3 linked regions of the Homo sapiens genome follow. The protein of the gene in region 2 purifies or fractionates together with the protein of the main gene of each other region. This does not show direct contact. Each region holds a gene or a part of one and is shown on either strand. Other genes may lie near its edges. The genes, in order: MRC2, TAFA2 and ATRNL1.

Region 1 (3,652 bases), on a different chromosome or scaffold from region 2:
CCCAAACAAAGGGGAGGGGCCACTGCCCCTTGAGTGGATGGCTTGGTCCAGCTCTCCCCAGCTCTGTCTTGTGGGGAGAACTTTACCGAAGTGACCTCAACGCTGTATCGATGGGTCAATGTGAAGCCCAGATGGAGAGGCCCCAGGCCCTGGGGGCTGCCCCGGTCACAGCTGCAAGGGACAGGGGGCACGTTTGGGTTCCTGCCCCTCTCACTTCCCATCTCTTCCGTCCCCACTCCTGGGTTGTGCTGAAGTGAATCAGAACCCGAGATCCACGAGCAGCACTGGTTCTGGATCGGCCTGAACCGTCGGGATCCCAGAGGGGGTCAGAGTTGGCGCTGGAGCGACGGCGTAGGGGTGAGGGGGCCTGGGGTACTTGGGACTGCGAGGCCGGGAGCTTGGTGGGCGGGGCCTGTTTGGGGCGGGGCCTGGAGGTGGGCGGGTTTTCTTGAGGGCCGGGCCCCCAGTCGGAGCCGGCTTCAGGAAAGCAGGTCCGAGAGGGGTCACCCGGCCCCCGGTGAGAATTCGCAGCTCAGGCCAGGCCTCTTGTTCACCTGTTCCGGGCATGGGGGCGGCCTGCACCTTGCGCCTCACGTTCCTCTTCCCTCCACCCGCCTCCTCCAGTTCTCTTACCACAATTTCGACCGGAGCCGGCACGACGACGACGACATCCGAGGCTGTGCGGTGCTGGACCTGGCCTCCCTGCAGTGGGTGGCCATGCAGTGCGACACACAGCTGGACTGGATCTGCAAGATCCCCAGAGGTTGGCCGGAGTGGCGCTGGGGGACGCGGGATGGAGCGAAGGGTGGCGGGGCCAGGAATTCCAGGGAGGGTCTCCTTTCCTCACAACGTCTTTGTCCTTGTTCCCCTAGGTACGGACGTGCGGGAGCCCGACGACAGCCCTCAAGGTGAGCACCCCCCAGCCCATCCCGCTACCCATCGCGTGGGAGAGGGCGTCAACTCTGGGGTAAGTCCCGAGAGGCCTGAATGAAATGGAGGGGATGAGGAGTTCCGGTCGAGAGAAGGGGGACGGGGTTGGCTCGGACGGAGGCAGCCACAGCCCTGTTTGCTTCCGTGTGGGAGGCGAGGCAAGCCTGGGGCCTGGGGCCTGGCACGGTGCCTGCCTGGGTCCGGTGTGCCTGCAGGCTCGCCTGCTGCCGCCTGGCTCTGCCCCGGCCCTGCCGCGCCCGCCTCCGGGGCCTGGCGTGCAGCCTCTGCCTGGCCGCCGCTCCCACGCCCGCGCTGCTCCTGCAGGCCGACGGGAATGGCTGCGCTTCCAGGAGGCCGAGTACAAGTTCTTTGAGCACCACTCCACGTGGGCGCAGGCGCAGCGCATCTGCACGTGGTTCCAGGCCGAGCTGACCTCGGTGCACAGCCAGGCGGAGCTAGACTTCCTGAGCCACAACTTGCAGAAGGTGGGCATTGGATTGAGCAGGGGGCTGCAGGCTGGGGGAGGGCAGGCCCGGGATGAGGGCAGGGGGCTGCCTACCCACACCTGCCCGCCTGGCTTCTCCAGTTCTCCCGGGCCCAGGAGCAGCACTGGTGGATCGGCCTGCACACCTCTGAGAGCGATGGGCGCTTCAGGTAGGAACCCAGGCAGGCAGCAGATGTGGAAGGGGGCTGGCTGTCCACACACGGAGCACAGAGGCAGACTTGCATTTGAATCCAGCCCTGCCCCTTCCTTGCTGGCTGTGTGGCCTTGAGCAAGATACTTAACCTTTCTGGGCCTTGGTTTTCTCATCTGAAAATGGGAATATGAGGCCTGCCTGGTAAGATTTTTGTGAAGATTAGAAATAACATATGCGAAGTGCTTACGCAGCATCCAGCACATTAGTTACTAAATAATGGCAGCTCCTGTTACGTCTGGTGTCATTCATCATGACTAAGGCCCTCTCGGGGAAGTGGGCAGAACATATGATGATCCGGGGGCCTCTTTGTATTTGGTGCCTACTTACCATGTACTGGGGGGCTTGAGGCAGGAAGGACCAGGAGCACCTGGGACTCAGAATTTGAGCTTGTCTTTTTGCCCTTGGGCTTCCTGCCCTGGAGTCCTCAGGCTTCTTTTCTGGAGCAGCAAGTGTCCAGGGACAGCTGGGGCCTTATCTAGAGGCACCAGGTCCTTGGGTCTTTGACTGCCCTGAGCTCAGTAGCTCCACCCCTCAGCCTACAGCCACTAAACCCCAGAACCTGGGCCCTTCCCTGCCCCCATTCCTGCGGCCTTCATTGCTGCATCCGGTGGAGGCCCAGCTGGGGGCCGGTGCTGGAGTTACCTCTGCTCCATGCCATTGCAGATGGACAGATGGTTCCATTATAAACTTCATCTCCTGGGCACCAGGCAAACCTCGGCCTGTCGGCAAGGACAAGAAGTGCGTGTACATGACAGCCAGCCGAGGTGAGGGCAAGGTGGGGGCAGAGTGCGCAGTCAGCTGTGCAAAGGGTTAATGCTGGGCGAGCCTGGGCAGAAGTCATCAGTCTGTTCTCATTCTCTTTGTTCCCACAACCCAATAAAGGCTAGACTCAGCGAGGGGTGGACCTGTCTCCATGGTCCAGAAGACTTGAATTCGGAGCTGGACACAGGCCCTGAGCCTCTGCCCAGACTCCTCTCAGGGCATGAGGCTGAGTGTGCTGCCAGCCATGCCCTGCCCTGCTCTGCCCTGGGGGTGACTGCCCTCCCCTCCCCTTTCCGCAGAGGACTGGGGGGACCAGAGGTGCCTGACAGCCTTGCCCTACATCTGCAAGCGCAGCAACGTCACCAAAGAAACGCAGCCCCCAGACCTGCCAACTACAGCCCTGGGGGGCTGCCCCTCTGACTGGATCCAGTTCCTCAACAAGGTAGGAGGTGGCAATGGGGCACCCAAGGGAGTCAGGGGAGAGGACGTGAACAGGGAAAGGCTGAGCCTCAGGAGTCCTGGCCTTTTGGCAGCACCAAACTCATGGCCTCTTGCCTGTACCCACCAACTTCTCTTTCACCTGGCTCCAGTACCAGGGCCAGACTCCTTGGAAAATGACTCACTGTAGTAGCACCTTCCAATCCTCCGGGAAGCAAGGTTGTCCAAATAATTTGGTGAGTGTTCTAGATCAGTGATTGCCAAAGATTTTTTTTTTTTTTTTTTGAGAAGGAGTTTCACTCTTGTCACCCAGGCTGGAGTGCAGTGGCGCGATCTCGGCTCACTGCAACCTCTGCTTCCTGGGTTCAACCAATTCTCTTGCCTCAGCCTCCCGAGTAGCTGGGATTACAGGCACCTGCCACCACCCCTGGCTAATTTTTGTATTTTTAGTAGAGATGGGGTTTCACCATGTTGGCCAGGCTAGTCTCGAACCCCTGAACTCAGGTGATCACCTGCCTTGGCCTCCCAAAGTGCTGGGATTACAGATGTGAGCCACCGCGCCCGGCCTGATTGCCGGCCTGATTATCAAAGATTTTGATAATGAACTCCTATTAGTAAAACAAAATATTGAGCTTACATGACCAAACTATGTGTGTGTACATTTAACTTATATATGTATATGTGTGTGTAAATAAAACCTACTTCCATACTAATATGACTAATATTATATATAGTAAAATATGTATAAGAACAAAAGAGTATAAAACATTAGCTAAAGATTTTTAAATACTTTTAAGTTTAAAACATTTTTTTGGCTGCGCGTG
Region 2 (3,652 bases):
CCACTGCATTACATACCTCACCTCAAATATATTCTATAATATTTTTCTTCACAATCCATTTCAACTCAAATATTTAACTATTTTAATTATTTCTTTTCAGACCTATACTTCACAGCTATAAATAAGAATGACTAAGAAGAAAACATACAGCACAATACATTGTTGAACCATTCCTTCAGATTAATTTCAAAACTCCAAGTAATATACTAAAATGGTAAATATCATGAGGGCAGATGTCTGCCTTTTTTGTATACTAAGATAGCCCAAACACCTAGAGAGTGCTTTCTATGGACTGAATGTTTGTGTCTTCCCAAAATTCATATACTAAAGCCTAAATCTCCAATGTGATGGTATTTGTAGGTGGGACCTTTGAGAAGTAATTATATCATGAAAGTGGAGCCCTCATGAATAGTATTATTGTCTTATAAGAAGAGACATGAGAGAGATGATACCTGTTCCCCCACCCCACAACCACCACATGAGGGTCTAGTAAGATGGTGGGTGTCTACAAGCCAGGAAGATGACCTTCACCAGACAAATCTGCTGGTGCCTTGATCTTGAACTTCCCAGCCTCCAGAATTGTGAGAAATTACTGCTTATTGTTTATCACTCAGTCTGTGGTTTTGTTTTTGTTTGTGGTGGTAGTTGTTTTGATACAGGGTCTTGCTCTGTCAGTCAGGCTGGAGTGCAGTGGCACCATCACAGCTCACTGCAGCCTCAACCTCCTGGGCTCAAGCAAACCTCCCACCTCAGCCTCCCCAGTAGCTGGGACTACAGGCACTTGCCACCATGCCCGGCTGATTTTTGTATTTTCTTGCAGAGACAGGGTTTCATCATATTGCCCAGGCTGGTCTCAAACTTTTGGGCTCAAGTGATCCACCTACTTCGGCCTCCCAAAGTGTTGGGATTACAAGCGTGAGTCACTGCACCCAGTCAATCTGTGGTATTTTTATCACAGCAGCTCAAACTGACTAAGACAGTGCCCAATAAATACTTATTGAATAAATGAACAGACTTTTCCAAGGATTATAAATTCTCAAAATTCATACATAGATTTTGAATGAATATGTTTAATTATCATATAATATATGAAGATTATTTATTTTCTAGCCTAGTTGATCGAACTAATTTTATTTCAGTGACTATGAAAGCCATCAGTAGAGCAAAGACATGTAACCCTAAAAAACCTGAGACCCATGACCTATCACAACTTGTTTTATAACAAAACAGCATCATGCAGATAAAGCAACATTACTAAATTATAAGATTAAATCTGATTCAATTTTATGTCCCAAGGTCTATAGCCTTTAGTCATCACCATAATCATCATTATCATCATCTTCATCATCTCCATCTCAATCTTACAAAGCTGAAGAACCCAAATAGCAAGCTAATGAATTTTAACCACTCAACAAATGACGGAAGGAGCAAACATATCTTCAACTAGAAAAGTATAAATTTTGACCCAATTCTGAATGTATATTGATAAGCACACCAATCATCAGTCTAAAAGGGGTTTACAATAATGCTTAAATGCATACATATCTTAGCAGGAAACAACTGTCATATAACAGATTACTTATCTATTGGAAAGTATATATGAGGTATTTAAATGCCAGAAACTATCTGCTAGATTTTCCTTGACTTCCTAACTAAAAGGGAAGCTCCTTAAGGTTAAATATGTCACGCTATATTATTGCACTTCCATGCCATGATACTTAGTGGGTCTGAACACACGGGAAAAAAAAAATTCTTTTTTTTTTGAGGCATAGTCTCACTCTGTCACCCAGGCTAGAGTGCATGGTGTGATCACAGCTCAATGCAGCTGTGACCTCCCAGGCTCAAGTGATCCTCCCCCCTCTCAGCCTCTCAAGTAGCTGGGACTACAGGCACACACACCCATGCCTGGCTAATTTTTTTTTTTTTACTTTTGTAAAGGCAGGGTTTCATCATGTTGCCCGGATGGTCTTGAACTCCTGGGCTCAAGTGATCCTCTTGCCTCAGCTTCCCAAAGTGCTGGGATTACAGGCATGAGCCACCGTGCCTGGCTGAAAAAACACTTTATTTTAATTGTCTTAAAAACTCCACTGAAGAAATATGTTGCTGAGAAACTGAGGCACAGAGAAATAAAGTGGTTTTTTCATGGCCACATGGTTATTTATTGTTAGAGCTACAAAGCATCTCCAGAGCTCTCGCCACTGCACCACACTGGTTTTATAATAGTCAATTTCAAAATTTATCTGCTAACCCAAATAGCAAGCTAATGAATTTTAACCACTCAACAAATGATGGAAGGAGCAAACATACCTTCAACTAAAAAAGTATAAATTCTGACCCAATTCTGAATGTATATTTATAAGCATGCCAATTATCAGTCTAATAGGGGTTGGCAATAATGTTTAAATACATACATATCTTAGCAGGAAAAAAACTGTCATATAACAGTCATTAGATTTAGTCCAAGAACTAAACTTTTAAAAATTAGGTTAAGTTTTTTCCTTAAAGTTTTCCAAAATGGGGCCTCTGTTTTGTGGAGGATGAGATTTCAATGCCCTCTCATTCTCCCCTTGGCCTTTGAATTGCTTCACTGAAATGTGGATCGTCTACCTCTTTTCTCTTTCTACACTGTGAAAAAGAACTAAAGTTAGAGCTATTTCACTCAATTTGACTCAACTTTCCAAAGAAAATACAAACAAAGCTGGAGAACCCAAATAGCAAGCAAGACCAGTTCACAGCTACTGACTTGTCTGATAGCCATTTCTGAGAAATTTTCTGAACACTCTAGCACCAACAAATTTGAGTATGCCATTTACCATATAACTATAACAAGGTAAAACTAAACTAAGAAAGAAATGGTAACAGTAACCAGGTTTCCTACTTTAAATAAAATAGTACTGGACAGTGCCTCTGTGAAATTAGAACTGTCTATAAGCTAGTAATGATAAAAATATAAGTATAAATGTTGTTTTTCTCAAGTAATATGAATGGCCATTTCTAAATTCTTGACTGATCTGAAAGTCACAAATTCATTCCATCAATATATAATGCCCTATTGTTTGTAAGGTCCTGGAAGGCCTGCCCTCTCAAAGAATATATTTTAATAAAGTCTCTTTGTTCTATCACTAGGTGGAAGTTTGCTATTAAAATTCCTATAACCACATAACCCTTTTAAAACCATGGCAGAGTTTTCAGATATAGACAATAATTTTGAATGATCAGTTTTTTGTACCAGAAGGAATCTGTCTCCTCATAGCCCAGGACATTCTGGTTTGAAAACTTTAATTCCAAAGCACAAATGCACCTTTACAAAAATCTTCTGTTCTAGTGCCCACTATAATTTATTTTCAAAGACTTGTTTATAAAGAGCTGCATAATCCACCCAAAGAAAGTCAAAGTGTTTTTCTTTATTATTAAACTCAACAGAAAGTTCCATGTGCAGCTACAGGAGGCCATAGGCAATTAACACTGAAAATTGAAAGGTTCAGAATGTTTGCATGACCTTTAAAGGGCAACACCGTTGCCCATTCACATGCATGCAATTATGCAGTGACTAGTTTGTAGCAGCAAATATATATATATTTATTTATATTTAGTAAAACAAACCTTGCATTCATCAAAAACTACTTTGAACTTTCCAGGCTTCATGTAGAGA
Region 3 (3,652 bases), on a different chromosome or scaffold from region 2:
ATTGGAATTCTTATCCACAACACTGAGTGCTAAAGAGGTTCCAAGGAAAAAATTATTTGGAATACCACATTTAGCCATTTTATCATTCAAGTGAAAATGAAAAGTACACTTTTAGACATGCAAAGACTCAAAAGTTTATGTCACAATTTATTTGAAAGAAATTACTAAAGATTATTTACCAATGGTTAAAATGGTAAAATTTATGTTATGTGTGTTATACCACCAAAAAAAATTGTAAAAAAACAAAAAAGTAGAACAAATGAGAAGGAATGGGATATAAGAAAAATTTGTGACAACATAAGCTTAATTCTAAATAATTTTTAGAAAGTTGTTAAGAGTATAAGAGCTTAGACTTTCACAAACCAGTTTTTCCCTACTTTCTAGCCTCTTTTATTGTGAAATATAACACACATACAATTACATAAAGAAAAATATAAGATTAATAAATTCCTATAAACACACACTCTGGACCTGCACAAAGCCTAGAAGTGGAGCATTGCCTCTCTTGTTTCATTTCCTAATCAGCACCCCTAAACTTCCCCCAGCAACATCCTCTAGCTGACATTTTTGAGAATACACTTTTGCCTTACTCTATAGTTTTACCACCTAAATACGCATTTCTAAACAATACAGTGCCGTTTTGACTATTTTTTAACTTTATACCTAAATGTAGTCAAACAGTATGTAATCTTTCATGTCTAGCTTCTTTCATTGAACAATAATGTTTGTCGAGAGACAAGCATGACTATTGAGGCAGGAGAAGGTGCGCATTGTCTCATTCCCCACAAGTCTTCAACTCTTGTATTCAACTCTCCTGGGCAGCTGGCTCCTAGTTTTGAAATGTTTTGCTATGCACAAAGGCCATTTTATGCCTGCAACCACCACACTGCCACCCACTTGATCAGGTACAACACCCCCATTCCTTACCACAATCCCTAAAAAAGGATATCAACAGGGAGCTCAACTCATAATACATCCAACCATGTCCATCCCAGGCATACCTCTCCACTTCATGCCAAGAGCCTGAAGGAACAAATGAACACAACAGCTGCAGCTGGGATTCCAGCCTGCATTGTGTTACTGTTTTGCCTTAGCTCTTCAAGTAACAGTGGTGCCCACTATGGACCAAATACATATTTGACTGGACCACTGAGAGTGATGAAAGGCCTAGAAAGTCAGTAAGTCTCTACGTGCATTGCCTTATGCAGTGGCTACCTCTAAATGGGAAGATGACTCATCTGAGCAAGAAGGACTAGTATCAACTGGGTGACCATGTTGTCCAAGGGCCATACACTTACAGGCTTCAACATACTAGATTTACCACCAACAGGGATCTCAGAATTATGAAGTTACTGTGATAGAAGTTATTAAGAAATTATTTTAGGCAGATAGAGAAAAAAGGAGTCCTTGGAAAGTTTTCATTTCTTTTTAAAACACCTCCAAAAGTGTTTCTTGTCTAACAGAAAAGTCCCAGCTCTTAGAGCCAAGCCGGCAACCTTTAGTATGCATATGCAAGCCATTAGAAACTGGGTCCACTCAACATGGCGATTCCCACCTTTGTCCTCTTGCCCTTGCCCCACATGTATTTGGGAATATGGCCGCCCCACATATCCCCATGTGTGTAGAACATCATGGTGCCCTGCATTTGCATATTAAAAGGCTAGGGTGGGAAGGCCAGTTTTTTTCCGAGGGCTACCTGAATGAAAGCCTGGTCAAACCAATCCCCTAAGCTCTATGCAAATCAGACACCCCCTCCTCCAGCCTCTACATATACCTGCCTGGTACGCACCACACTTGGGGTTTCCTCTTTCGGCTGTGGAGCCCCCATCCCTCTGTCTCTGTAAGAGCGAACCTTCTGCCTTTTCTTTTCTTTCTTGCCTATTAAACTCTCTGCTCCTTAAAACCACTCCACGTGTGTCCGTATTGTTTAATCTAATTCAACGTGAGACAAGAGCCCTGGTGTTCCTCCACTCATGGGAGCCATATCATTACTATAATTGCTAACTAGAATGGGTTGCCTCTCAGAGGAAAAACAAGAAAGCTCAAAGGAGGGAAGGAAGAGTGGACGGGCAGAAAATAAATATTGCTGCTGGGATAGTTGTTTGTATTTTCATCAGTCAGGCTGCCAGTGGCTGCTCCTATGGAGGGACTGCAAGAAAGTCAATGATCTAATAAGAAAGTCCTGAAGATACTTATGAACGTTATAGAAACAAGCTGTGTTATGGCCTACACTCCTAGGAAAACTCCAAGTGGCTGTTTCCTGGAGAGAAAGGGTCAGAGGGAAACCAGTGGACTGATGCAAAAACCTAAAATGGACCTTTGACCTTTAAAAGTTTCAAATATGACAAATGAAGAGAGATGATGATAGTGGAGAACTTAGGGCTGTTAGGAGAAAGGAATTAGAATCGGGATAAAGATCCCCTGGAGAGAATTCCTGTATAGAGAGGGAAACTGTTGCTTTCCCTATCTCATTGAATACATTTCAACCACAACATATTCCTGAGTTTAATAGATACACCAGACTCCAAGTGGCTGTTATTTTGTCTCCTTTGACTGAACTGTAACTACAGTTTCTTTGGAACCTGGATCAAACACACCAACATGTTAATTAGATTCACTCATTTCAAATCCTGTTTACTGCAGGTTAAAGTATTGGAAGAAAAAAAAATCCAAGGAGTCTTGCTCCTTTTTTCTTTGTGAGCTTCCTGGACACTCAGATGTTGAGAAGAAGGGAACTGAAAAAGAAGCAAAAGAACTTCTGATTTTATTTGTCTGTTTGGACTTTACCAAATAACTGATATTTTGCTTTGTTCAAATCAAAGCATCCTCAACGGACATAAACTTGGATACCGGCCGGGCGCGGTGGCTCACGCTTGTAATCCCAGAACTTTGGGAGGCCGAGCTGGGTGGATCATGAGGTCAGGAGTTCGAGATCAGCCTGGCCAACAGTGAAACCCCATCTCTAAAAAAAGTACAAAAATTAGCTGGGCATGGTGGCACATGCCTGTAGTCCCAGCTACTTGGGAGGCTAAGGCAAGAGAATCACTTGAACCAGGGAGGTGGAGGTTGCAGTGAGCTGAAATTAGGCCACTGCACTCCAGCCTGGGCCACAGAGTGAGACTCCATCTCAAAAAAAAAAAAAAAAAAAAACCTGCATACCAACTTTATCTCAGGTGATTCTGCAGCTTTCTATGGTGGTAGAATGGTAACTACTGGGCCCCTGAAAAGTATATTATTCAAAAAAAAAAGGACATAAAGTCTGGATTAATTACAAGAGGGACAGATACCAATGAGTGGGATATGAATGAATGCAACCAACATTGAGAAACAGGTCATGAGAGCAGCAGGAGTAAGTAAAACTTTCTACTTTTTTGTTCCAAATCTGAACATACCAATTAATTCAGGTGAAAAGGCATATTTTTGATGAGCGTCAGTGTCAAAGAGTGGATTGCAGAAAGATAAACCATATTCTCTGCTATGAAGAAGCTAGCTAAGATTGGCACTTTTTTCTCCCAAGCAGAAAGAGTTTCACACGGTCTTAAGTTCCTACAAGGCTAACAAGTGCTCCCAGTAGCATTATGCAATTCCCTTGGCAGCTGTATTCTGACGCCATTTGTGTTTGTAAGCAAGGCCACTCTCACCACATAGTACC

Evidence for each region.
Region 1: the proteins of TAFA2 (region 2) and MRC2 purify together in Homo sapiens (affinity purification with mass spectrometry; one large-scale study listed by BioGRID and IntAct). This does not show direct contact.
Region 3: the proteins of TAFA2 (region 2) and ATRNL1 purify together in Homo sapiens (affinity purification with mass spectrometry; one large-scale study listed by BioGRID and IntAct). This does not show direct contact.

The regions. Positions count from the first base shown.
Region 1 is NC_000017.11:62,679,546-62,683,197, forward strand, and holds part of MRC2 (C-type mannose receptor 2 precursor), read left to right. Parts: intron 1-254; coding exon 255-357; intron 358-624; coding exon 625-763; intron 764-872; coding exon 873-908; intron 909-1,254; coding exon 1,255-1,415; intron 1,416-1,516; coding exon 1,517-1,584; intron 1,585-2,291; coding exon 2,292-2,392; intron 2,393-2,689; coding exon 2,690-2,832; intron 2,833-3,652. UniProt on the Homo sapiens protein: May play a role as endocytotic lectin receptor displaying calcium-dependent lectin activity. Internalizes glycosylated ligands from the extracellular space for release in an endosomal compartment via clathrin-mediated endocytosis.
Region 2 is NC_000012.12:62,182,750-62,186,401, forward strand, and holds part of TAFA2 (chemokine-like protein TAFA-2 precursor), read right to left. Parts: intron 1-3,652. UniProt on the Homo sapiens protein: Has a role as neurotrophic factor involved in neuronal survival and neurobiological functions.
Region 3 is NC_000010.11:115,302,720-115,306,371, reverse strand, and holds part of ATRNL1 (attractin-like protein 1 isoform 1 precursor), read right to left. Parts: intron 1-3,652. UniProt on the Homo sapiens protein: May play a role in melanocortin signaling pathways that regulate energy homeostasis.